Regions from separate parts of the Homo sapiens genome. Here all the other regions are reported to be linked to region 3. The links are microRNA targets in miRTarBase. Many come from high-throughput screens and were not tested one by one. Region 3 holds a microRNA gene; each other region holds the end of a gene's coding sequence. Distances are from middle to middle.
The links. Region 3 holds the annotated microRNA hsa-miR-4252 (GGCCACUGAGUCAGCACCA, at 1,592-1,610, shown strand). A microRNA usually pairs through its seed, bases 2 to 8, with sites in the 3' UTR of a target mRNA and lowers its output. Matches are read on the target gene's strand: a 7mer-m8 pairs with bases 2 to 8, a 7mer-A1 pairs with bases 2 to 7 and ends in A, and an 8mer does both.

Region 1: the mRNA of AFF3 is a reported target of hsa-miR-4252. Seed matches in the 3' UTR shown: 8mer at 931-938.
Region 2: miRTarBase lists LRIF1 as a target of hsa-miR-4252. The part of its 3' UTR that is shown has no 7-base or 8-base seed match.
Region 4: miRTarBase lists SLC9A7 as a target of hsa-miR-4252. Seed matches in the 3' UTR shown: 7mer-m8 at 1,848-1,854, 7mer-m8 at 1,329-1,335, 7mer-m8 at 884-890, 7mer-A1 at 498-504 and 7mer-m8 at 452-458.

Annotation. Positions count from the first base shown.
Region 1 is chr2:99,548,611-99,551,732 of GRCh38, forward strand. It overlaps AFF3 (ALF transcription elongation factor 3), which reads right to left. Exons shown (of 25, transcript NM_001386135.1): 25 at 1-2,985. The coding sequence ends at 2,864. Among named protein-coding and RNA genes, the nearest start is that of REV1, 60 kb to the left of the region's middle.
Region 2 is chr1:110,945,536-110,948,535 of GRCh38, reverse strand. It overlaps LRIF1 (ligand dependent nuclear receptor interacting factor 1), which reads left to right. Exons shown (of 4, transcript NM_018372.4): 4 at 137-1,346. The coding sequence ends at 577. Among named protein-coding and RNA genes, the nearest start is that of LRIF1, 17 kb to the left of the region's middle.
Region 3 is chr1:6,428,313-6,431,453 of GRCh38, reverse strand. It overlaps MIR4252 (microRNA 4252), which reads left to right and starts at 1,558; the gene lies at 1,558-1,620. It overlaps ESPN (espin), which reads right to left. Exons shown (of 13, transcript NM_031475.3): 2 at 3,035-3,141. RefSeq lists an enhancer at 2,777-2,896.
Region 4 is chrX:46,604,265-46,607,405 of GRCh38, forward strand. It overlaps SLC9A7 (solute carrier family 9 member A7), which reads right to left. Exons shown (of 17, transcript NM_001257291.2): 17 at 1-2,939. The coding sequence ends at 2,688. Among named protein-coding and RNA genes, the nearest start is that of CHST7, 32 kb to the left of the region's middle.

The DNA of each region.
Region 1 (3,122 bases), not on the chromosome of region 3:
CACGTGCCTATCTTCCCAGCTGCTTGGGAGGCTGAGGCAGGAGGATTGCTTGAGCCCAGGAGTTTGAGGCTGCAGGGAGCCATGATCGCGCCACCGCATTCCAGCTTGGGCTACAGAGCCAGACCCGGTCTCAAAACCAACCAAACCAACAACAACAGCAGTAACAACAAAACTAAGTAAAAGGAACAAGTTATGAATGACTTTCACAAGCAACAATTGGAGGATGGTTACTAACCAAAATCACCCATGCCAAACCCCACAGAAACTGCTGTACCAACGTGCTCCACACGTGCTCCACAGATGAAACAAGACAGTCATAAGAACTACACGCTCTGACCACTGCCCACAACGGTAAGTTTCAAGAAGTTTTCCTGGGAAATGTGGGCCATCAGAGTGCTGATAAAACACTGCTGGCCCACCTGTCAAATGGGGCTTCACAGGGAAGCTCATCACATAGATGTTACAACAAAGTCTGCAACTTTCAAGGTGGGCAGGACCAGAGAAGCTCTCCAGGTATGCAGGATAGACCTCCAGGGCCATCCCTTTATGTGTTTGAATATTTCATCAGGATTCTTCAAGAGTAGGTAGAACAAAGCCTCAGTCCTCCAAAAAAATGACTCAAAATTTCTTAAGTTAGGTTCAAGTTTCTGACATAGGATGGGATTGTGAACTCTGCCAAAAATTAGTGAAAGGGCTGGGTGTGGTGGCTCACGCCTGTAATCACAACACTTTGGGAGGTGGAGGCGGGTAGATCACCTGAGGTCAGGAGTTTGAGACGAGCCTGGCCAACATGGTGAAACCCAGTCTCTACTAAAAACACAAAAATTAGCTGGGCATGGTAGTGCACACCTGTAATCCCAGCTACTTGGGAGGCTGAGGCGGGACAATCACTTGAACCCAGGAGGCAGAGGATGCAGTGAGCCGAGATCGTGCCACTGCACTCCAGCCTGGGCAACAGAGCGAAACTCGTCTCAAAAAAAAAGTGAAAGGGTTGTAAGAAGCACCCCAGTTGGAGACATGTAAAATGGAAATTCTCTTAATATTTCCAAATGCTTGAAGGCCAAAGCCAAATGCAAATTCCACAAGCCCTTCTTATTTTCAATTAATTTCAAATCATCTAAGTTGTTCAGTCATTTATACAATTTTGAATCAGTGCTCAGAGCTAAGGAATTATGATGATCTTACTTCCCACCTACAGATCAGGCTAACAAAAATGTTAACACTGCAAACCAACCTGTAAGAATATCAGTGAATGTTTATGGATCAGCATCTAGTCTAAGTATTTTGTGCCGTCATCACCTTGAAAAAATGGATTGCACCACATATTACACCGCCTGCCTTTCTCAGACCGTCCTGGTGCAACTTTATCAAGTAAGAGGCCACAAGGACATTATTTTTGTTTTTAACGTGTGGCAAGATAGACCCTCTTTTTCAGGAGTTATTTTCTTTTCGTCAAGATTTCATATCCAAATATATTTAACAAGATGACTAAATCTAGGGCATAAGACACTACAAAAGAAAAAACATCAGACAAAAACTGTAAACAAGATGTCAAAGAAACTAAAATGTAAACTTAATTAAAAAAAGAAAACAAGAGAAAAACTCAGAGCAAGGTGTAAACATACCAGACACACAGGACACAGGAAGAGGCTCTGGTTGCTGCTGCCCCAGAAAGGAACTGTGATCTTCTGCATTGCAAGCAGCCTGCTAATCAAAGCCTGAAAAATCGCCCCCAAATCAAAACGCATCAAAGGGCTGCAGGTGCACATTCTGCATGAGGAGTGAGAGAATCAGCATTATCATGGCAAATAGCTCTCAGCCTGGTAAGCGAAGGATTCAGGCTCCTACTGAAGGGACAATCTAGGTAATGGCCTCATTTAGCCAAGAAAATCTGTAAGAAAGCTATTGGTGGAAAGAAAAGACTTGAAACAGATTGGCTGACAAATGCCATGTGGCTCTACAGCCACCGAGTCACAGTGGCAGGAAGAAGAAATGCATGTGGCTGGTGGGCTTGTTATCACAGGTGCAGAAAACTTCAACTCCTAACTGAGCTCCAACACACAGGCACTGCTACCTTAGTGTCTGTTAACTTTCAAAGACGCCGCGTTTTTGCTAAATCTCAGTGCCATTTGCATACTACTTGGAGGTGGGGCTGGGAAGGGCTGTGAGTGTCCATCTGTTTGCCTGGAATGCATTTAGTTGATAATAGAGTCAGATGGGGGAAGGGAATTAGAGGAAGAGCAGGGTATTTGGTAACATGCAATCTAGTAAACTTCCGGCACAAAAATACCTGGCTTATTTTCATTATTCAATTACCCATTAATACATACCAATCAAAAAATAATTGGGGAATAGTATATTAATACTGAAAGTAATCAACAGTATAAGAGCAGGTCCATCTTCACTGGCAGTCAAGCTTTTGGTGTGCTGTATTGCACCTGGTTAACTAACCCATGAGATTTTGGTTGAATTTTCTAAGAAGTCACGGTTTAGCACTGGAATGGAATAGAAAGTGTGTGTCTGTGATTGTGTGTGAGTGTACGGTGTGTGTGTGTGTGTGTGTGTGTGTGTGTACTTCCTCTAGTCAGAAACCTCTGATCACTTTGTCTAGCCTGGGATTATGGAAACTAGACAAAGAAGGTGTGTTCTGAAGAGCTGTGTATCTTACACACATACACAGGCGGCTTCTTATATACCCACACATACAAACACACATGCCCTGCAAAAGATCATTGTTCAATGCTGAGGAAATGTTCACCGCAGTCTGATAAATGCTGTGGCTGGGAGTTTCAGTAGCACAGTGTCCAAAAACGTTGAGCCATCTGTGGAGACCAGAGCCCACTCTGGCCCCAGGGTGAGGTCCCTATGACAGGTGGGCGCTGTTCCGCAGCCAGTGCAGGCCCTGTTGGGAGTACTGGACCAGGTGCTCCATGCTGCTGTGCAGGGTGACCGGCCCCATGAGCAGATCCAGGTCGTTGAAGAATTCTAGGGGGACAGAAAGAGTTGTTAAGAATGCCACACATGCTAGGTGTGCTATCCTGAGCAACTGATGTAAGGAAAAATTCCATTCATGGTCTCTATATAAATCAAGGATTCTCCGTTCCATCATGTAACTTTAGCAT
Region 2 (3,000 bases), 100 Mb from region 3:
GTAGTTGTCTTCCATAAATTTTGTTAATTGTAATAGCTAGATATTTGTTTCTGCAGACGTTGTTAAGTTTGGTAGTACCCGGTGCATTTAGCAGTAACATTTCGTTTTTGTTTTGGAATGTTATTCAATATTGCAGCAGAATTTTGATAAGAAAAGAAAAGCAAAAACTAATAAGAAGATGGATCACATAAAGAAGAGAAAAACAGAGAATGCTTATAACGCAATCATAAATGGGGAAGCTAATGTCACCGGTTCCCAACTCCTAAGCAGTATTTTACCAACTTCAGATGTGTCACAACATAACATTCTCACGAGTCACAGCAAAACCAGACAAGAAAAGAGAACTGAGATGGAATACTATACCCATGAGAAGCAAGAGAAAGGCACTTTGAATTCAAATGCAGCTTATGAACAAAGTCATTTCTTCAATAAAAATTATACCGAAGATATTTTCCCAGTGACACCACCGGAGTTAGAAGAAACCATTCGAGATGAAAAAATAAGAAGACTTAAGCAGGTGCTGAGAGAGAAAGAAGCAGCTCTTGAAGAAATGCGTAAGAAGATGCACCAAAAATAAAATCTCCTGTAAAGACTTCAGTGAAATAGCTGTTTTTTAAAATATACTTCAGCATTAATAAGTTAATTGTAGGTGTGTTCTGAAAGTGTCTTTGAATATGAAGCTTGTTTTTTCATCAGTCGATTGTACAACTTTAAGGAATACAGAAAAGGTTGATTCACATATGACTTGTGAATAATTTACATGGGGTATCTATACCTTTGTCTTAGATACCTTTTTTTGGAAGGATAAATTTTATATTTTTCTATTATTTTAACTAGAATTCTCCAAGTTTGAATATTTGGGCAGGGTTTTTGTTATTGTTTGTATCTTTACCTAAATTGCTCAGGCATTATTCCAGCAGTAGATAGTGACTGTGTATTACTGAAATTTTACAATTCAAGAGAGGAAATCAGCTCCAAACTTAGCTTTTCCAGTGGATTTGTATATGTACTTGCTTTATCTCTTTACCCTTAAAATGATGATACCTTGTATTCACCATTGTTTTTTTTAATGTCGTGAAATAATATGTATTATGGCAACATTATTTAAACATTCAAACATTTCTCAAGAATGAGCAACATTTGTAACTTTACAATGTAATTTTATATAATCCAAAGGTATTTTAGAATTCAGGCCATTTGATGTTTTGTTTGCTTATAGTGATGTGTTCCCAGGCAAATGCTGCTTTTTTTTTTTTTGGGACTATGTACATACGTTACTGAGATTGTGTAAAAAGTAGATCCTGAACAGTTATCACATTTAATATTTCTTAAACTGTAAAAGTGTATTTTCTCTGTCTGGTTAATCTTTGATTTGGGAAAGTTTGGGAATGGTGTAGGGATAGGGATTAAGAGATGGGGAGTTAGCTGAGCGTGGTGGTGTGTTTGTAGTCCCAGCTACTCAGGAGTCTGAGTGGGGAGGACTGCTTGAGCCCAGGAGTTTGAGGCCAGCCTGGGCAGCACAGTGAGACCCTGTCTCTTAAAGGAGGAGGAGGAGAACAATGTTATTAAAAAATGATCAGGCCGGGTGCAGTGGCTCACATCTGTAATCCCAGCACTTTGGGAGGCCGAGGCGGGCGGATCACCTGAGGTCAGGAGTTTGAGACAAGCCTGGCCAACATGGCGAAACCCTGTCTCTACTAAAAATACAAAAATTAGTCGGGCACAGTGGCGGGCACCTGTAATCCTAACTAAGGAGGCTGAGGCAGGAGAATCGCTTGAACCTGGGAGGCAGAAGTTGCAGTGAGCCAAGATTGTGCCACTACTGCACTACAGCCTGGGCGACAGAGCCAGACTCCGTCTCAAAAAAAAAAAAAAAAAAAAAAAGGATCAAATCTCTGGAAGTAAGAGAGGTTAAAGAAAAAAAAAATCTGTGCAATGGCAACAAAAGAGTAAATCAGAAAATACTGTAAAGAAGTGAAATACACAGATCAGCTAGATTTTGCTGCTTTCTATTAACAGCTGTTTTGCAATATAATTCATGTACTGTAAAATCCAGCTTTTTAAAGTACACAGTTCTCTGGTTTTTAATATGTTTACAGAGTTGTACAACCATCAACACTATAATTTTAGAACATTTTCAAAATGTTCAAAACATCCCCCAAACAAACCTTATACCCATTAGCAGTCATTCCCCATCACCTCTCCTTATGCCATAGGCAAGCACTAAAAAGCTTTCTGTCTTTATGGAATTGCCTGTTGTGAACATTTCATATATATGGAATCATACAATATGTTTTTCTTTGTGATTGGTGTTTTTTTACTTAGTCTAATGTTTTCAAGGTTTATCCATGTTGTAGCATTTATCAGCACTTCATTATTTATTGCTGAATAATATTCCATCATGGATATACCACATTTTATCCATTCGTTATGAATATTTGGATTGTTTCCACTTTTGGCAGCTACAAGTAATGTTGCTGTGTATATTTGTGTACAAGGTTTTTTAATGGGTATATATTTTCAGTTCTCTTGGGTATATACCTAGGACTGTAATTGCTGGGTCATACAATAACTGTGTTTAACTATGTTTTGAGGAACTGCCAAACTATTTCAGTCAGGTTTTGCTCTCCCCACACCACATAAACATACTGTCAAGGTCACCAGTGACTTCCATATTACTAGATTCAGTAGTCAATTGTCAGTCTTCTTGATTTATCAGCAGAATGTAATTTCATGAATCATCACTTCCTTTGAAAAATGTTGAAACATTCTGTCATAGAAACAGTGCAAATGTATTGTAGAAAATATAGGCCAGGCGCAGTGGCTCACACCTGTAATCCCAGCACTTTGGGAAGCCGAGGTGGGCAGATCACCTGAGGTAAGGAGTTTGAGACCAGTCTGACCAACACTGGTGAAACCCCGTCTCTACTAAAAGTAGAAAAATTAGCTGGGCATGGTTGTGCATGCCTGTAATCTCGGCTACTGGGAATGCTGGGGCAG
Region 3 (3,141 bases):
TATTTTTGGTAGAGACGGGGTTTCACCATGTTGGTCAGGCTGGTTTTGAACTCTTGACCTCAGGTGATCCACCTGCCTCGGCCTCCCAAAGTGCTGGGATTACAGGCATGAGCCACCGTACCCAGCCCCAGGTACTTTCCAATCCCATTCCAGTCTAGTCTGGTCGGGGGTAGGGGAGGCTTTCGGGGAAGGAGGCACCTGCTGAAGTTGATAAAATCTCTGGGCTAACTGGTTTTCCAGCTTGCTGTGACTGGCAGCACCCACGAGCCCAGGGGAAGAGCCTGGAGCCTCCTCACTCCCCAGCCTGGAAGCTTAAGCCTCAGGGTCCCAACTGATCCCCAGCTCCCTGACCCCCACAGCCCTGCCCAGCTGCTCAGGCCCTGGGGCAGCCAGAAGCAGGTGTGAGGGGGACAGAGTGAGCTCCTGGGCTCCAGGACCCTCCTGGGAGGATGGCCACCGGCCTTGGGGCCACCTGCTCTTTGCCCCTCCTCACTCTGCCCTGATTAGGGATCTGGACCCCTTGTTCCCCTCCATCAGCCACTGGAGCTCCTGCCGGGAGGGCCAATCCTCCCAACTCAATCTCCCTGAGACCCAGAGCCTGGGACTTGCCCAGCCCGGCTCCTGCCAGCCCCATGCCTCCCAACTGAGAGATGCCTTTTTTTTTTCTTTTTTTTTCCCCCTTGAGACAGAGTTTCACTCTTGTTGCCCAGGCTGGAGTGCAATGGCTCAATCTTGGCTCACCGCAACCTCCGTCTGCCGGGTTCAAGCGATTCTCCTGCCTCAGCCTCCTGAGTAGCTGGGATTACAGGCATGCGCCACCACGCCTGGCTAATTTTGTATGAGAGATCTCTTTTCTACAAGGGCTCAGAGGGAGGGTCCCGCGTGGCAGCAGCCCCTGAGGTCAGTGTGACAAGTCCTCTGCTTCTGGGAAGACTTGGCCCCATGAACGGGACAGACGGGGAGGTGTGGGGGACGTGCAGGACATTCCTGCAATCTCAAGCGCTTTCTGTTATAACACCCCAAGGTATAGACCTGGAATTAGCTGAGCTTCCCCGAGGCTGTCCAGCCTTCCAGCTCCTCTGCAGCGTGTCACTTCCTCGTCCCGTGGCCACCCACAGCCTCCCTGGCAGGATCGAGTTTCCCACCAGCAGGTCCGGGAGCCCTTCCTCCCTCAGTGCTCACCCACGCGCCAGCGAGAGAGCTGAGCCTTGTGAATAATTCACAACGATTCACAGCAGGCCCCAGAGGCTCACAAGAGCATGAAGCTGGGCCACCTGGGTCCCCTGATGGGGCCCTGTGTCCTGGGGCAGCTCAAGCCTCTGCCCTCCCCAGCTCCCAGCCCTCATATCCACAGCCTTGATGAGCAGGAATCCCTACCCCCAAGGTAGGAGGTTAAGTGGGTACCCCAGCCCCCAACCCCAATTCCCAGCTGCCCCTCCTGCGTGAGCCCAGCCTGGCAACCACACAAAGACACCTTCTTATCAGTCGAGTCACATGCTGCTGTGGGGAACGGAGCCCAAGCCCTCTGTCCACCTCCCTGAGATTCATGGTGACTCCTGGGGGGCTGGCAGCTCATCAGTCCAGGCCATCTGGCCACTGAGTCAGCACCAGCGCCCAATCACACACAGCACCTGGCATGGCCTGGGAGGGGGTCAGGGTCCCCCAGCCCCGGAGCCCTGGAGGGCGTTCCACAGCACAGCCAGTCTTCCTAACACCTGGGATCCAGCCCACGGAGGGATCACGGCTTCTCAGTGAGGAAGGCTCAGGGGCTGGCGGTCCCCACCAGCACTTGCAGAAGGTGGGCTCAGCGTCCTCCAGTTCACACTTGGGCCATATTGGTCCCGCCATCAGGGGCACCTGCCCCTCTCAAGACCTGTCCTTCTCCTCTGCTTGAAGTGAGGGGGTGGGACAGGTGCATCAGAATCACCGCCGTGAGGGTGGGGACATGTCCCAGGTGTGGCTCCCACGCCCCAACCTGGAGAGTCTAACTCAGGAATCTGGGACAGCCTCCAAGAGGTGCTGACAGGAGCCAGTTGGAACCCTCTACTCAAGGGTCCCTGGGGCCCTCCTAGTCTAAATCCCACTGACTTTGACATGATCCAAATCCTAGTTTGTTTGGAAGCAGTGAATTCATACCAAAGCTGCTCTCGTCCTGAGGCTGGGTCCACATTCACATTTACATCTCAGGCTCCCACTTAGACTAATGAGGGTCACCCATCAGAGCACCCCACTCCCCGCTCAGACCCCTGTGGCATCTGGCACCCTACCCTCTCAGACAGGCCCTGGGCAGCTTTCCCCAGGATCCCTGCCTCCCCAGGCGCACCTAACACCTGAGTCCCTCCCTCCCTCCCTCCCTCCCCAAGACTCACACATGCCCCCTGCTCTGTGTGACCCCCCACCCCACCCAGGGGAGCTCCCAGCCCACTCCCCAGGAGGTTTGGGATCCCCATGCTTCCCTTGATAGTAGGAACGGGCTGAGGGGCCACAGGAGATAACAAGATGCTCTCTGGATGGCCTCCAGCCAGGGGCTCTGGGGCCAGGAGGTGGGGTGGGGGTCTGGGAGGGGCCTTTCTCCCTTAACTGCTTGGTAACTGATGGGGTTCCCTTTCTGCCTGTTTGACTAGGGCCTAGGAGGCGCTCCTGCCCTTGCTGCCCCCGACTCCATCCTGAACAGTCTTGCAAATGAGCACAGCCTGAGCCAGAGAGAGCCCCTGCGGCAGAAGCAGCCCAAGGGGAACAGGTGACCTTGGCCTGTGTGCCCAGCCTCCCAGGTCCAGCTGTGTGCGGCCGGGCAGCTGAGGATGCTGGGAGCACCTGCTTGCAGGGCTCTGGGGGCAGCCCCAGAAGGGGTTTTCCAGGAGGGGAAAATTTCATGTTGAGTGGGAGCCATTTCTCTGGCCTGGCCCTCTGGCCCCAGGATGGCCACTGGAGGGATCATTGCCCTGGAGTGCCAGAGAGGCGTGGAAAATCCCAGGCATCCCCCAAAGCCCTGGCCCAGCCCACCCAGAGGACCCCTTAAGAGGGGTGATCTTACTCAGGGTAGTGCTCGACGAGAAGCCTCAGGGAGGGGAAGTCTCCTTTGGCGGCAGCGTAGTGGATAGGCAGGGCGCCCATGTCTGTGGCCGCGGTGGGGTCCCCACC
Region 4 (3,141 bases), not on the chromosome of region 3:
AGGTCTTATTCTTAAGTCCTTCACTAGCCTAGTTGACCCTGAGGGCTCATGGGTTTGGATAGGTTGTTTAGCATTTTTCAAACTTCCAAAGCCCATGGATGACCATAAAATCAAAATGGACTTTATTGTAGATAAAAAGGAAAGAGGAGAATAAAAATCATTCAACTGTATTTTTTTTTTTTTTTTGAGGCAGGGTCTCATTCTGTTGCCCAGACTGGATTGCAGTGGCATGATCTCAGCTCATCGCAACCTCTGCCTCTTGGGCTCAAGCAATCCTCCCACCTCAGCCTCCCAAGTAGCTAGAACTACAGGCATGTGCCATCATGCCTGGCTCATTTTTGTATTTCTGTAGAGACAGGGTTTTGCCATGTTGCCCAGTCTGGTCTTGAACTCCTGAGCTCAAGTGATCCTCCTGCCTCAGCCTCCCAAAGTGTTGGGATTACAGGCATAAGCCACTGTGCCCGGTCTCAATTTTATTTTATTGAACCATATGAAATTGCCACTCCTGTTTTTACAAAATGGTCGAATATCAGCAAACTCATATGGCTCAACCTAATTAAATACGTATTTTCCTGATTTGCACAAATTATCAATTCAAACACAAAGTTGTGAAGCAATGTCTTATTTAAAAATTAAGCATTAAACATGCGAATTGAGAAGATTAAATGACTGATTTCACTACGGGTGGACTAGACTGGGACACAATATTTTGTCTTCCATCATAAGAAAAACTGGCCAGTATGGTGAAACCCCGTCTCTACTAAAAAATACAAAAAATTAGCCAGGCGTGGTGGCGCGTGCCTGTAATCCCAGCTACTCAGGAGGCGGAGGCAAGAGAATCGCTTGAACCCGGGAGGCGGAGGTTGCAGTAAGCCGAGATCGCGCCACTGCACTCCAGCCTGGGTGACACAGCGAGACTCCATCTCAAAAAAAAAAAAAAAAAGGAAAGAAAGAAAAAAAGAAAAGCCCACGTTATTGAAAGCATTTTTTAGAAATTGGGTTGCCAAAAATAAGCTAGCACTGAAGCACAGAGACATTAAGAGAAACTCAAACTTTTCCCGAGAGGTCTTTCTGTATTTCAGCACTACAGGTGTGGGCAGACAGAACAGCTCATCCAGAAAGAATCCAAACTGAAAACCTAACTTTCAAATCACACCCACATGTTAAGCTGGTGCAGCAGCCTCCCCAGATACAAGGAAAATGACCCTTCTCTGCATGGCACTCAGTGGTGTAAAGACACTCGGACTCTTAAGCTTATAGAAGACAGAGCTTTCTAGTGGGCTGAAAATACTTAATGTTCCATTGTTTGCCCTCTGATTCCTCAGGTGGCCACTGAAATCTCATGCATTCGTCGGCTCAAAGTTTGGAATTCTACCTAGTCTTGAGACTACTATCTTGTATTTCTTTGCAGTAATTTTTTTGCATTGAGATTTCTTTCCCTCTGAATTCTAGCCTGGTGCCTTGTAGGTTTCTTGCTGCCTTCCCTTTCCCAGATAATAGCATCCTACAAAATTTGGTGTTATTTCTAAACCCAGAGTAGATACTTCAGTCCTAGTGATTATTTCCCTAGGCTGTCAGCTCATATGGTAGCCCTCAAAAGTTGAATGCTGGCCAGGTGCAGTGGCTCACACCTGTAATCCCAGCACTTTGGGAGGCCAAGGGAGGTGGATCACGAGGTCAGGAGTTTGACACCAGCCTGGGCAACATGGTGAAACCCCATCTCTACCAAAAATACAAAAAATTAGCTGGGCATGGTGGTGGGCACCTGTAATCCCAGCTAATCAGGAGGCTGAGGCAGGAGAATCACTTGAACCCGTGAGGCAGAGGTTGCAGTGAGCCAAGACCACGCCACTGCACTCCAGCCTGGGTGACAGAGTGAAACACCATCTCAACAAAAAAAAAAAGTTGAATGCTTTTTGCAGTGATACCATCATCAGTTTCTAAATACCTCCTTTCCTCAGATTAATCAAAAAATAAGAGTATAACACTATTTGCCTTTGGTTTTAAACATTTCATAACTACTTCTTTATGGATATAGCCAGAGAAGGAACTATAATTCTTCGTTCCATGTTGAAATGTTCGTGGATGTATTTTCAAATCTTCAGTCTAGAAAAAACACAGGCAGCATAAAGTCAGGAATCCTGATATGAGGTTGCAGTCAAGCAGACTTCGTTGCCAGAGCCTCCAAATTGCTTTTTCATGTTTTCTGTCCCATTTAACACCAAGTTTCCCATAATCCTTGGAGTTCCGATCTCAATTGCCTTCCTTCTCTTTAACTTGATAATTCTATGGTCAGCTTGACTTGCACTGCTGTGTACTGAGATGCAGCCTCTCATGGGAGGAATCCCCCCACCCAGCACCTGCCTCGCCTTGTTCAGATACTGCAGGTGAATGAATTAGGAGACCATTAAAGCATGCTATTTTTTTTTGTTTGTTTAACTCTGAAACAGCGCACTACTATGTGAAAAAAGTGGGAATAGGTCTACGTTTGTCTGAATTTAGAGACACTTTTGCCTCACCATCTGCATTGTGAGTTAAATTTTAAGTGTTACAATAGCTTCAGACCCCAATAAAATAGAAGAGTTAGTTCAATCTAGTCACTGCCCCACCTCCAACAACACTAGGGCTTGCAGCTGTCCTCACCCCATCGGGAGCCTACCCCATCGCGCCAGGGCTTGGGGGGAAAGTCAAGCATTATCTTCCAGGGGAAACACTAGGCGGGTGCCCCGGCTCGAAACCTTCTGGTCTCCCATTCCCAGGTCTCGCTCCAGCACTTCCTCCGAGCTGCTCTTCGTTCTCCGGCTGCCCTCCAGACTCGTGGAGGCGGTGTGCGAACTTGAGGAGCCATTTGCAGTCACTGTGCTGTCCCCGTAGGTCAATGTCAGGTCGCCTTCGGTCAGGATGAAATCAGAGTCTTCCTCTCTCAGTGGCTCTTGGTTCTGAAAAGTGCAACCAACAACAACAACAAAAATGAGAGACTGATATCTTCCAGGTTTGGCACCAACCCCAATCCCAATCCCAACTCCTCATCTGAAAACTGGGGACTATGAAACTTGCCTGCCTTGAGCCTCTAGCGTGGTAACTGGATGTAAACTGTAGAGGGCCGGGCACGGTTGCCAGGACTAGGACTTAGAATACTAG